Regions from separate parts of the Homo sapiens genome. Here region 2 is linked to region 1. The links come from fine-mapping of genetic effects on gene expression. A gene starts in region 1. The other region holds a variant in brackets. All regions are shown on one strand. Distances are from middle to middle. Region 1 holds the start of CEP120 (centrosomal protein 120). Region 2 overlaps CEP120 (centrosomal protein 120).

What was found.
Region 2: its variant is fine-mapped to the expression of CEP120 in whole blood (INTERVAL, PIP 0.99).

Annotation. Positions count from the first base shown.
Region 1 is chr5:123,420,450-123,425,449 of GRCh38, reverse strand. It overlaps CEP120 (centrosomal protein 120), which reads left to right and starts at 2,047. Exons shown (of 20, transcript NM_001375405.1): 1 at 2,047-2,500. The coding sequence starts at 2,452. RefSeq lists a silencer at 2,347-2,506 and an enhancer at 1,836-2,781.
Region 2 is chr5:123,341,837-123,346,836 of GRCh38, reverse strand. It overlaps CEP120 (centrosomal protein 120), which reads left to right. Exons shown (of 20, transcript NM_001375405.1): 20 at 84-1,945. The coding sequence ends at 318. Among named protein-coding and RNA genes, the nearest start is that of CEP120, 79 kb to the left of the region's middle. The variant C/T (reference allele first, on the strand shown) is at 2,342.

The DNA.
Region 1 (5,000 bases):
GTGGGGATTACAATTCAAAATGAGATTTTGGTGGGGGCACAAAGCCTAACCATATACATTAAAAAAGACAAGAGACATACCAACCATTGTATTTTGGAACTTGTTTGGATCCTGATTTGAAAAAACCGACTGCAAACAAATTATTAGACAATCAGAGAAATTTGAACAGTATATATTTAATGGGATTAAGAAATTTTTGTTAATTATTAAGTGTAATAATGGGATTGTGGTTAAATACTTAATATTTTAAGATTCTTTAAGAAGTCGTTATCTTTTTTTTTTTTTTTTTTTTTGAGACTGAGTCTTTCTCTGTGGCCCAGGCTGGAGCGCTGTGGCATGATACCGGCTCACTGCAACCTCTGCCTCATGATTTCAAGCGATTCTCGTGCCTCAGCCTTCTCGTGCTTCAGCCTCCCAAGTAGCTGGGATTTCTGGCTTGCGCTACCACGTCTGGCTAATTTTTGTATTTTTAGTAGAGACGGAGTTCTGCTATGTTGGCCAGGTTGGTCTCGAACTCCTGACTCAAGTGATCCGCCCACCTCAGCCTCCCAAAGTGCTGGGATTACAGATGTGAGCCACTACCACACCTGGCCAAAAAGTCTTCATCTTTTAGAAGTACGTATCCAAAAAGATGAATTGATGTGATGTTGGGGATTTCTTTAAAAATAACACAACAGATGAAGATGATTGGTCTTAAGTTGATAATCGTTGAAGCTGGGGTCTGGGTAACTGGGGGTTCATTATATCATTCTGCTTTCTTTAAAGTATGTTTGACATCTTCCACAAAAATAATGCATTGTTCAATGATGAATCCAAAGTAGATCATTACTTTGATTTTACATTGAATAGTGCTTCATTTTAAGAATGCCTGTGATAGGACCTGAAAGGGCCTTAGAAGTAATTAGTCCAATCTCTACATATTCCTCCTTTTCTTTTGGGCAGAAAGCAAAGAAGGAAGAATAAAGAAGAGGAAGAAGAAAACAATAGTGATATTATATTATTTGCTCTCAAAATAACTTCTAAATTTCCAAAACAAGGAAGCAATAGAAGAAAAAGAAAACAGCGAGATATTATATTTGCTCTCAAAACAACTTCTCAATTTACAAAACCAGAAAGTAATAGGAGAAGCCGCACTTATGTCCACTACCTAGTGCTATCTCTGCAGCTTTATTTTATTATGATTTACTTTTGTTTTCCGAAGCAGAATTTTTCCCAAACTTAATAGTGTCCACGATCGCTCCAACCAATTCGGTTATTTAAGTTTCAAGCTAGATAACCTCCAAAAGAACTTTGCCTTTGACTTGAATACATGCTTCTTGCAATTTGAGTAGTGTTTAGGAGGCCGTTCCCTTTACAAGTCTTGAACCGTTTCTTAAATCTGAATTTGGGAGACGTTAAGGGGAAAGGGTCGGCAGACAGCACCTCAATGCCTTGTTTATTTTTGGTTTTGAGTTTGCTAATAACTTTGTCATCGGGGGTGGAAGAACCTTTATATTTCATTGCCCACGTGACAGTGTTTTTGTTTTAGGGGTAATTTCTAAGGGACAGGAAATTCTCGGGGAGTTTACGTCAGCTTTAACAAGTACAGTAATTACCGTATTGAAGCTACTTGTTTTCAAAGGTCGGAAATTTGAGGTGCCGCGTGAGCACGATTTAGGGACTTTAGAGTTTAGATTTAAGTCATTATTTTTTTGTGATTTAATTTTTTAAGCAGTGTTGACACTGGGTACGTCAACTAAGCTAGGTTTTTTTGTTTTTTTAATCCCCACTAATATAACTCTCAGGTTGTGGCTGAAGCATAAAGCAGGTAATACGCTACACTCACGCTCCTTAAAGGCTACGCAGCTTCAGGAAGCGTTTACAGCAGTAGTGCGCTTGCGCAGCTGGTCCCACACCAAGTCGCCCGCCTCTCCTCGTCCGGCTAGCAGAGGGCGCTGTGAGGTAATGAAGGCGTCCTCCTTAGGGCTCTGGAACAGAGCGTAAAAGGGCGGGAGGCGAAGCTCGCTGACGGGCGTTCTAGCCTTGACTGCTCTGTCTCTATCACCCGTTGTCCTCCAACCTCCCCTGGGCACTGGGCCTGCGGGCCTGGTTGCTAGGCGGAAGCTGGGCGCGGCGGCGGCCGCTGCGGCCGCCCGGGCGTTTGAAAAGCGGCTACGCAGGCGGCAAAAGGTCCTCGGGTGGCGGGCTTGTCTCTGCTTGCAGACTGGCAGGGCTGCAGCGTGGCTTTTTCCTTGAGTCGGGGCACAGTTAGGATCTGGGCTGGCGGCCCGAGGCAGAGGAGCCGGGCGCGCTGCAGCAGACGGCGGTGGGACCTGGCTGCGGAGCGGGGTCCGGGCATCAGGGACCGGGGGCGGGCAGTGGGGGTCCCGCCGGGGGTCCCGGATTACCCGCGACTCAACTGGACCTCACTTCCCCCCAGCCGCCTTCGCCCCCGGACCGCTCACCGCAACCATGGTCTCCAAATCCGACCAATTGCTCATCGTCGTGTCCATCCTAGAAGGTGAGCAGCCTGAGGCTTGCTTTTGCAACTGCTGCCTCCCGAGTTTTAAAAGCTTAGTGTGGGACCGAGGCCTTGTTAACCTTAAGAACCCTGTCATCTGTGCTTTTGTGGTCCCCACAGACTTGTTCAAAGTTGTACGTAGTGAGGTCTGTTAGGCAATTGATTTAAAAATCTCTCCAGGGATATGAGCGCTATTAGGGATAAGTGATATTTAGCGTGACTAGCCGTAGCCCCAGAGAATCTAGAGAAAACGATTTTCATCCAAAGCAGCACGTCGATGGCTTTTATATATGAGCTGAACGTGGTCCTGAGAAGCGCGTTCTGATCAGCGGTTCCCAATAATAGCACTTGTAAGAGCTTTGACTTGAATACAGGCTTCCTGCGATTCCAGAAGTGTTCCGGAGGCAATTCCCTTTACACGTCTTGCTGGAGGACTCAGGGGACTACAGTTCTTAAGAGGGTGTATTATACATTCCTTAAAAGGTGTGTTTTGGATGAATGACATTGGTTTATTGGGACTCATTGAGTGTCAGACACTGTGCTGGGAATGTAAGAATGAAACAGTCCTGATTCTAAAAAGCTAAGGATGTAGCAAGGAGAGTGTGTCAGCAAATAATTCATCAGGATGTGGAAGACCCTAATGAATGACCACCTCTGTCTAAGGAAACTGCGGAAGTTTCACTAGAGGAGGTGGCATTTTTTGGGGTCCTACAGATGATTAGGAATTTGTCAGGTGAAAAAAGGAAGGGCATTCCAGGCAAAGAGAAGAGCAGGGAGCACTTAAAGTATGGAAAAGCAAGACACGTTTTGCCTTGCTTAATTAAATTCACTCAGTAAACATTGGTTAAATTCAGTGTGGTTGGAGAACAGATTTGCAAGAAAGTGGAGGGCATAGGAGATAACAGGTGAATTGAGGACACTTTACGAATAGTATGTTAAGAAGGAGTCATCTTGAGCCAGAGCAGAAGCCTGGCTGCATTTTTTCCCCCATGGGAGAGTGTTTTATAAAGGCCTGGCACTGTGTGAGGGATGAGAGCAAAGGAAACATTGTAATCCTAATCTTTGAATTTTGGAACAAGAGACTGACCAGAAAAGCCATAAAGATTTGGAGCACTATTAACTGTTAGTTTACTTATTGTTTAAAAACATAGGACTGAAATAACCTTAAAATTTGGTTAACAACAGTTTTTAGACTTATAACTGACCATGCTATGAGGAAACAAATACCTCCATTCCCTCCAAGGATGTAGAGGTCTGTCCACGTGGGGAGATCACAGGACACAATATGTTGGGGTATAATATTTAAAATATGTGATATGTACTGTAAATATAGGTTTGAGGGTAGGGTGGGTGGGATGGCTGAAGTTCTTTAAATAATAAGTGAGCTTTAGATATGTGACAATAGAATTCTATGGACAACCCAGGCCAGTCTGACAACCCAGGACATAAATGCAATTCATTTGGGGAAGCTAGTTTTAGAGCAGCAGAAAATGAGGTCCTGAGAGAGGCCTGTTAGTGCTAATTGGGAGAGCTGTGCGATGTGTGTTAATATTCCTAATACAGAGTTTCAAGTGAGAGCCTCAGGCTTAAACTCAAAAGGTTAGCAGTCAAGGTCTTTCTGACCAGCTTGATTCCCAACCAAGTAGCTTGTGCCGGGGTGAGCATGGTGGGTGGAACATTGAAAAGATCAGCAAGATGACCAGGGTAGAGGAAGGTGAATATTTAGAAATGTCATGGTAAGAAATGAGCTTGTACAACTGGAGCGAATAGGCCTCAGAGGATCTTGAAAGCCAGTTTAGAATTAATGTTCCAAGAAATAGGTTGGCAGCATATATTCCTAAATAGAATGCTTTTCTTGAGTTCAGTTTAGTAGCAGTGTGCAAGGAAGAGAACCTGGAGTCAAGGATGTCTGTTAGGTTGTTTCCACAAACATACCCAAAACTAGCATGTGGTCCTCCCTCCAAACTATTCTTCTCTCTTGTTCGTACTGTATTTCCATTCATCATAACCATGCTGTTGCCTTAAGCCAAGAACCAAGGAGTCATCCTCAGCCTGGATTCACTCTCCATTTCTAACTTCCAAATGGTCATCAAGTATAATTGATTTTATTTTCTGAATAATAATAGATTCTACATACGAGTTTTTGAATGAATGAGTTTACATTGTGAGTGCCTTGGTAAGGGGCCCTCATTATCCACCTAACTTACTGTAATAATCTTTTCAGTAGTCTGATTCTTCAATGTTTTCTTCCTTTCCAGAAACATCTAGACTTCCTCCTTTACTCCCTGGGGATGATCTTTCTGAAATGCAAATCTGATTTTCTTAAAGTCCTTCAGTGTCCTAAAGGATAATGTCTGTATTTCTTAGAATGGCATACATGGCCCTTTGTGGTAGACCTCTTGCCTACCTTTTCAGTCTCATTTCCCCTCATGTATTCTCATCCCTTTGGCTTGGTGGAGGACTCGGGGGACTACAGTCCTTAAGAGTTAACTTGCAATTT
Region 2 (5,000 bases), 79 kb after region 1:
CCATTGAATCATTTTGTTTTTAAATAGTGACATTAAGAAAACCAACACAGTTGCTACAGTGGCATTTGTTCTTGACTTCTCAGGTTAAGGCAACAAGAGCAAAAACAATACCAGGATTCCACAGAGATTGCAAGTGGAAAAAAGGATGGCCCCCATGGCAGTGTATTGGAAGAAGGTTTGGATGATTATTTGACTCGCCTGATAGAAGAAAGGGATACTTTGATGAGAACGGGTGTGTATAATCACGAGGATCGAATAATAAGTGAACTCGACCGACAGATCAGAGAGATTTTGGCAAAAAGCAATGCCAGTAATTAATAACATTTGGAAAAGCTTTATAGAGACTCTAAGTCTAAATTTTAATTTCTTTGTAAAAACCTCAAAAGTGAGGAAAATGGATGTTTTAAAATGGTATTTTCAATTTTTTATAAGCAAAATTTTGTATGTTATTGTATAGTATTTATTTGATCTTATTTACTTTATGCTACCTCTCCCACACTGGTTTTATTTGTAATTTGCATTTATATACTCATTTTAAATGACTTTTCAGTGTTTTTCATAGTTTATAATCTGATGGCTAACTAACTTTCAAAACAGCTTTTAACTAAGTTTGTTGTAGGAGAAATGACTGCGGTAATTTCCAGTTCTATAATGTTTCATGTTGAGCCAAAAGAGTATATCTTGCACTTTAAAAACGCTGCGTCCTATTCCATTTGAATGTAAATTCTTAAAAGTTGAGACCAATTGTAACCAGTTTAACTCATTTTAGATGACCTTTTTTTCTTATAATATTTGCAAGTGACAAGTTTGAAAACAAAGCAAGATCAGTGCAGAGAAGCCACATGACATGTTGGGTGACAGATTGGTCATTTATTTAAATAAAGTTAATACAGATTAAATTTGTTTCAAGAGCTATTGAATTTTCAAATTTTCAGTGTATTTATAACTTTTAAGAACATGAAGTATTAGCTTAATATAGTTTTCTCTGTTGGTTTCTTCCTCAAGTTTGCATTGTTTTCTTTTGTTAAAATTAGAGATTTCTTTTTATTTTCCAGTTATAGTAATACTAGCTGTCAGCTTAAACCCTCTGTAATAGAACATGGAAACAGACACATAAAGACATTAGCTGAAAAAATAGAGTGAAAATCAACTATTTTTTACTCCCGCTAATTTCAATCAATCGTTTTCAAAAGCGCACGAGATTCACTCATTGGATTTATGCAGTGCCCTGTCTGTATAAAAACTCTTAAGAGTTCCTTTATATCATATTCTTCAGAGCCAACATTTGTCCTCAAAGCAACGTTTCCCACCTCCTTTTACTGAGTACTGAAAAAGTTTTAGCAAAGTCACAGATTAGGTTGAATTTCAAAATATATGTACTTTAAAAAGTTCTGATTTCCAAATATAATAAAGTTAAAATTAAGTATATACTTTAGGAAGTTACCAATAACTTCCATCAAAGCAGAGTAGGATATATGGTAACATTAATTTTCGGTCATTTCAAATGAGGTATATTTCTTATTAGGGAAATTAAAGTCCCTATATTTATTATATATTTTTTCCTTATTAACAGAGTATTAATCTAGTAAAAAATAACCCAGCAGTAAATAATAAAGAAATTACTGAATGAGAGGATAATGAATCTGAATCATAGCAGGAATTTGCAATATTAATTATGGTTAGCTATTTTTCTCTCATTGATTTTTGTGCCACTTGAATGGAACAGAAGCAAGCCTTATGTTTTGGAAGGTCTGCGGTAAAATGCTGTGACTGTTTACTTTCAATTGCATTGTGTGTTGCCTGTGACTGCTTTCAAACGCTAGAGGGGGCCTCTGATTTAAAGAAATAAAAAGGACTTTTCTAAAATGGATGTGTAGTTTATTTTGCCTTTTGTAAAGCTCTTTTGGCTATTGTAACTTAACAAATAAAATCATAATTGTGTGCATCTCTGAGTTCTTGAGCAGCCTGTTACTTCTGTTTCTAAACAGAGTGGGCATAGTGTTCGGGTTTTCCTATTTCAAATGACTGTCTTTTTTTCTCAAGTGTTTACATACTATTTTTTGTCTTACAACTAGGGGAGTCTGAAATATTAACACTGTTTTGTAGTCCTTTTAGCAATACCCATTCCATTTGTAAGTGGCATCGAATGTTTTTACACTGATTTTGCCTAGGAGTTAATGAGTATGACCACAGTAGATAAATCAGTGAGTGGGTGCAGGCATGGGTGGGTGAATAAGTTTCCTAGTAACAGGAAAATATCAAATATTTTAGGGTAAAATCAGATTTACCTTTAAAATTTCTGTGGTTTTTCATGGAGAAAGTCTAGTTTCCATGTTTAATG[C/T]GGGCATGTACTGCATAGGAGGGGTGTGTAATCTACCAGGTATATCTAATACCATGTCTGTATAAACATAGGAGTTCCCTTGCAGATAAATCCTAGTAATTTCTATCTGGACCCGAATTCCTGTTGCTTCAAGCAGATGTGGGGGTTTGAGTGTGATTTAAGGACGTATTAGGGCCTCTGCTGATGGGGAGACAGTCTTGTCTGACCAGATGATTTTCTCCTCTACTTCCTGTCCAGATGCTGCCCAGCCTGAATCTGAATTCACAGATTGTCCCAGTATATACTGCTTGTTTGCAGCCACTTCAGAATGGACCGACCTGTTTTTTACAGTCCATAGGAAGGGCCCTCTGGTAGCTATATATGGACTTAAAAGATGTGTTCTCACTAATACCATTGTGTCTAGCTTTATTGAATACCTAAATTTTTTATTAAAATAATTGATATAATTCACACAACGTAAAATCACCATTTTAAAGTATAAAATTCAGTGTTTGATACAGTCACAAGGCTGTACAACCACCACCACTATTTAAGACATTTTTATCACCCCAAAAAGAAACTCCTGTACCCATTAGCAGTCACTCCTCATTCTCTTCTATCCCAGCCCCTAACTACTAATCTTTTGGTCCCTTTGGATTTGCCTATTCTGGGCATTTCATATAAATGGAATCCCAAATTGGATATTTAAAATAGAAAATATTAGAAAACCTAAAGCATATCTTTTTCTATCACTAGTTTCTATATGTTTTGTCAGATATTGAATTAAATGATACAGAGATCCAGAAGGCCAACATAAGGGCATAATATTCATCATAATATTCATCATCCATTGGGAATAGAGTTCAACTCTTCTTGTATCTATCACCTGTAAAGCACTGACCAAAAATAATAGTGAAAAGTAGATAATGTTCTAGCAATTCTGATGCTGAAAATGGGTTATTGACACAAGGCTTGTGTCATATCATTGGTATCTCATCAAAATTGCACACTCTTCCATGCTTTACAGAGTTTGGAGATAAAGTGAAGCAGTGTTAACCAGAATGTGAGGGCTGCGAGGGCAGCGACCAGGTCTATCTTAGTTTCTTCCAGAATTAAAAGAGTACCGGCCATAAGTAGGCACTCAGATAATATTCGCTAAATTCATAAAGAAATGAAAAGATTGTGTATGGTCTACCTGTCAAAATAGATGTAAAAAATTTGACGGCTGAAATGCAGGGGAAAGTAGGCCTCCATGGCCTCACTGACAGGTTTATGAACTTGTTGTCTGACTGCCCATGCCCTATAGAAGTGGAGGAGTTCTGTTTGTTGGATTGTTTTTTGCTTAAAAAAAATAATAATAAAAGTTTGCTTTAAATTCATAGATGCAGAAAGTAGACTAGCGGTTTCCAGGGGCTGGAAGGAACTAGGGGAAAAGAGGAAGGGGGAATTACTGTTCAATAGGTCCAGAGTTTCTGTTTGGGATGTGAAAAAGCTCTGGATATGGATAATGGAAATAGTTGCACAGCATTGTGAATAATTCCACTGAATAGTACACTTAAAAATAATTAAGATGGTGCATTTTATGTTCTGTATATTTTACCACAATTTAAAAGTTTGCTTCAAACTGTGCCTCAAATCTGCCTACCCAGTGTTCTTATGCTGAAAGTTTTCTGCACAAGAGTCACTTGTCAAGTCATTTCTGAAGATAACATCTTGTCATTTCTTGATTGTGGAAATGGATCAAAAATGCTTCATTAAATGCTTATAGCACCTTTACCAAAATCTGAAATGAGTGAAAACTAATGGCTACATTTATATCCTGAGTTCTAAAGATAAATTGGAGACTCCTTGAAACTTAGAATTGTAATGCCTTCATGTTTTATAAGATTATGTCTTGTTATTCTTAATGACAATTTAGAAAAAAAAATGGTTTTTAAAATTTAACAGATAGTCCAGACCATGGATGTAAATTGGAGAGAGAATTAAAAAAAAAAAAAAAACCCAACACATATTACTAGTACCCTAAAGTAGGCTTAGTATCTTTTTTTGGAGGTAGGTTCTCTTACTGTTGGTTCATGGTCTTATTAACGAATAAAGTGGTTTGTGTAAGAGTGTTAAAGTCTGGCTGAGTAATTTTAAATTATGACTTGAAAATTTAAATCCATCTTTGACGTTTGTGTTTTGGCAATTGTATTAACAGCATATCCCTTGGAGCCTAGACGTTTCGTCGTACACTTTTTCTGCCACTTGTTCTAGTGTACAATCATGCTTCTTCCTAGCTAATGCGCCCTCTGCTTCTAGGTCTCGGAGACACGCAATCCATCCATATTGGCATAAATGGGGAAACAGAGACAGAATTACTGAAGCACCTAAATGTTCTACTGAAACCAAAAGAACTAGATTGCTCACTGATTTTGTTACATAACCTCTGTTTGGCATCAAATTAGAATCTGCTGTTGTTAGGAATGTAACCGTAGAAAGGCTGCTATATACTTAATTCCCATTTTATTTGCTTCTCTGGGGGTTGTCTTAGTGTTTTCATTTGAAATGTTTTTACAGATGTAGGCTCTTCAGATATGAAGTTGCTGAAGTGGAGACTCCTCAGAAGTTTAGCTTTCAAATTGAAGGGGGGTGGAAATCTGTTTAGGAAGATTAATTTTTAGATAAATAATTTACTGAC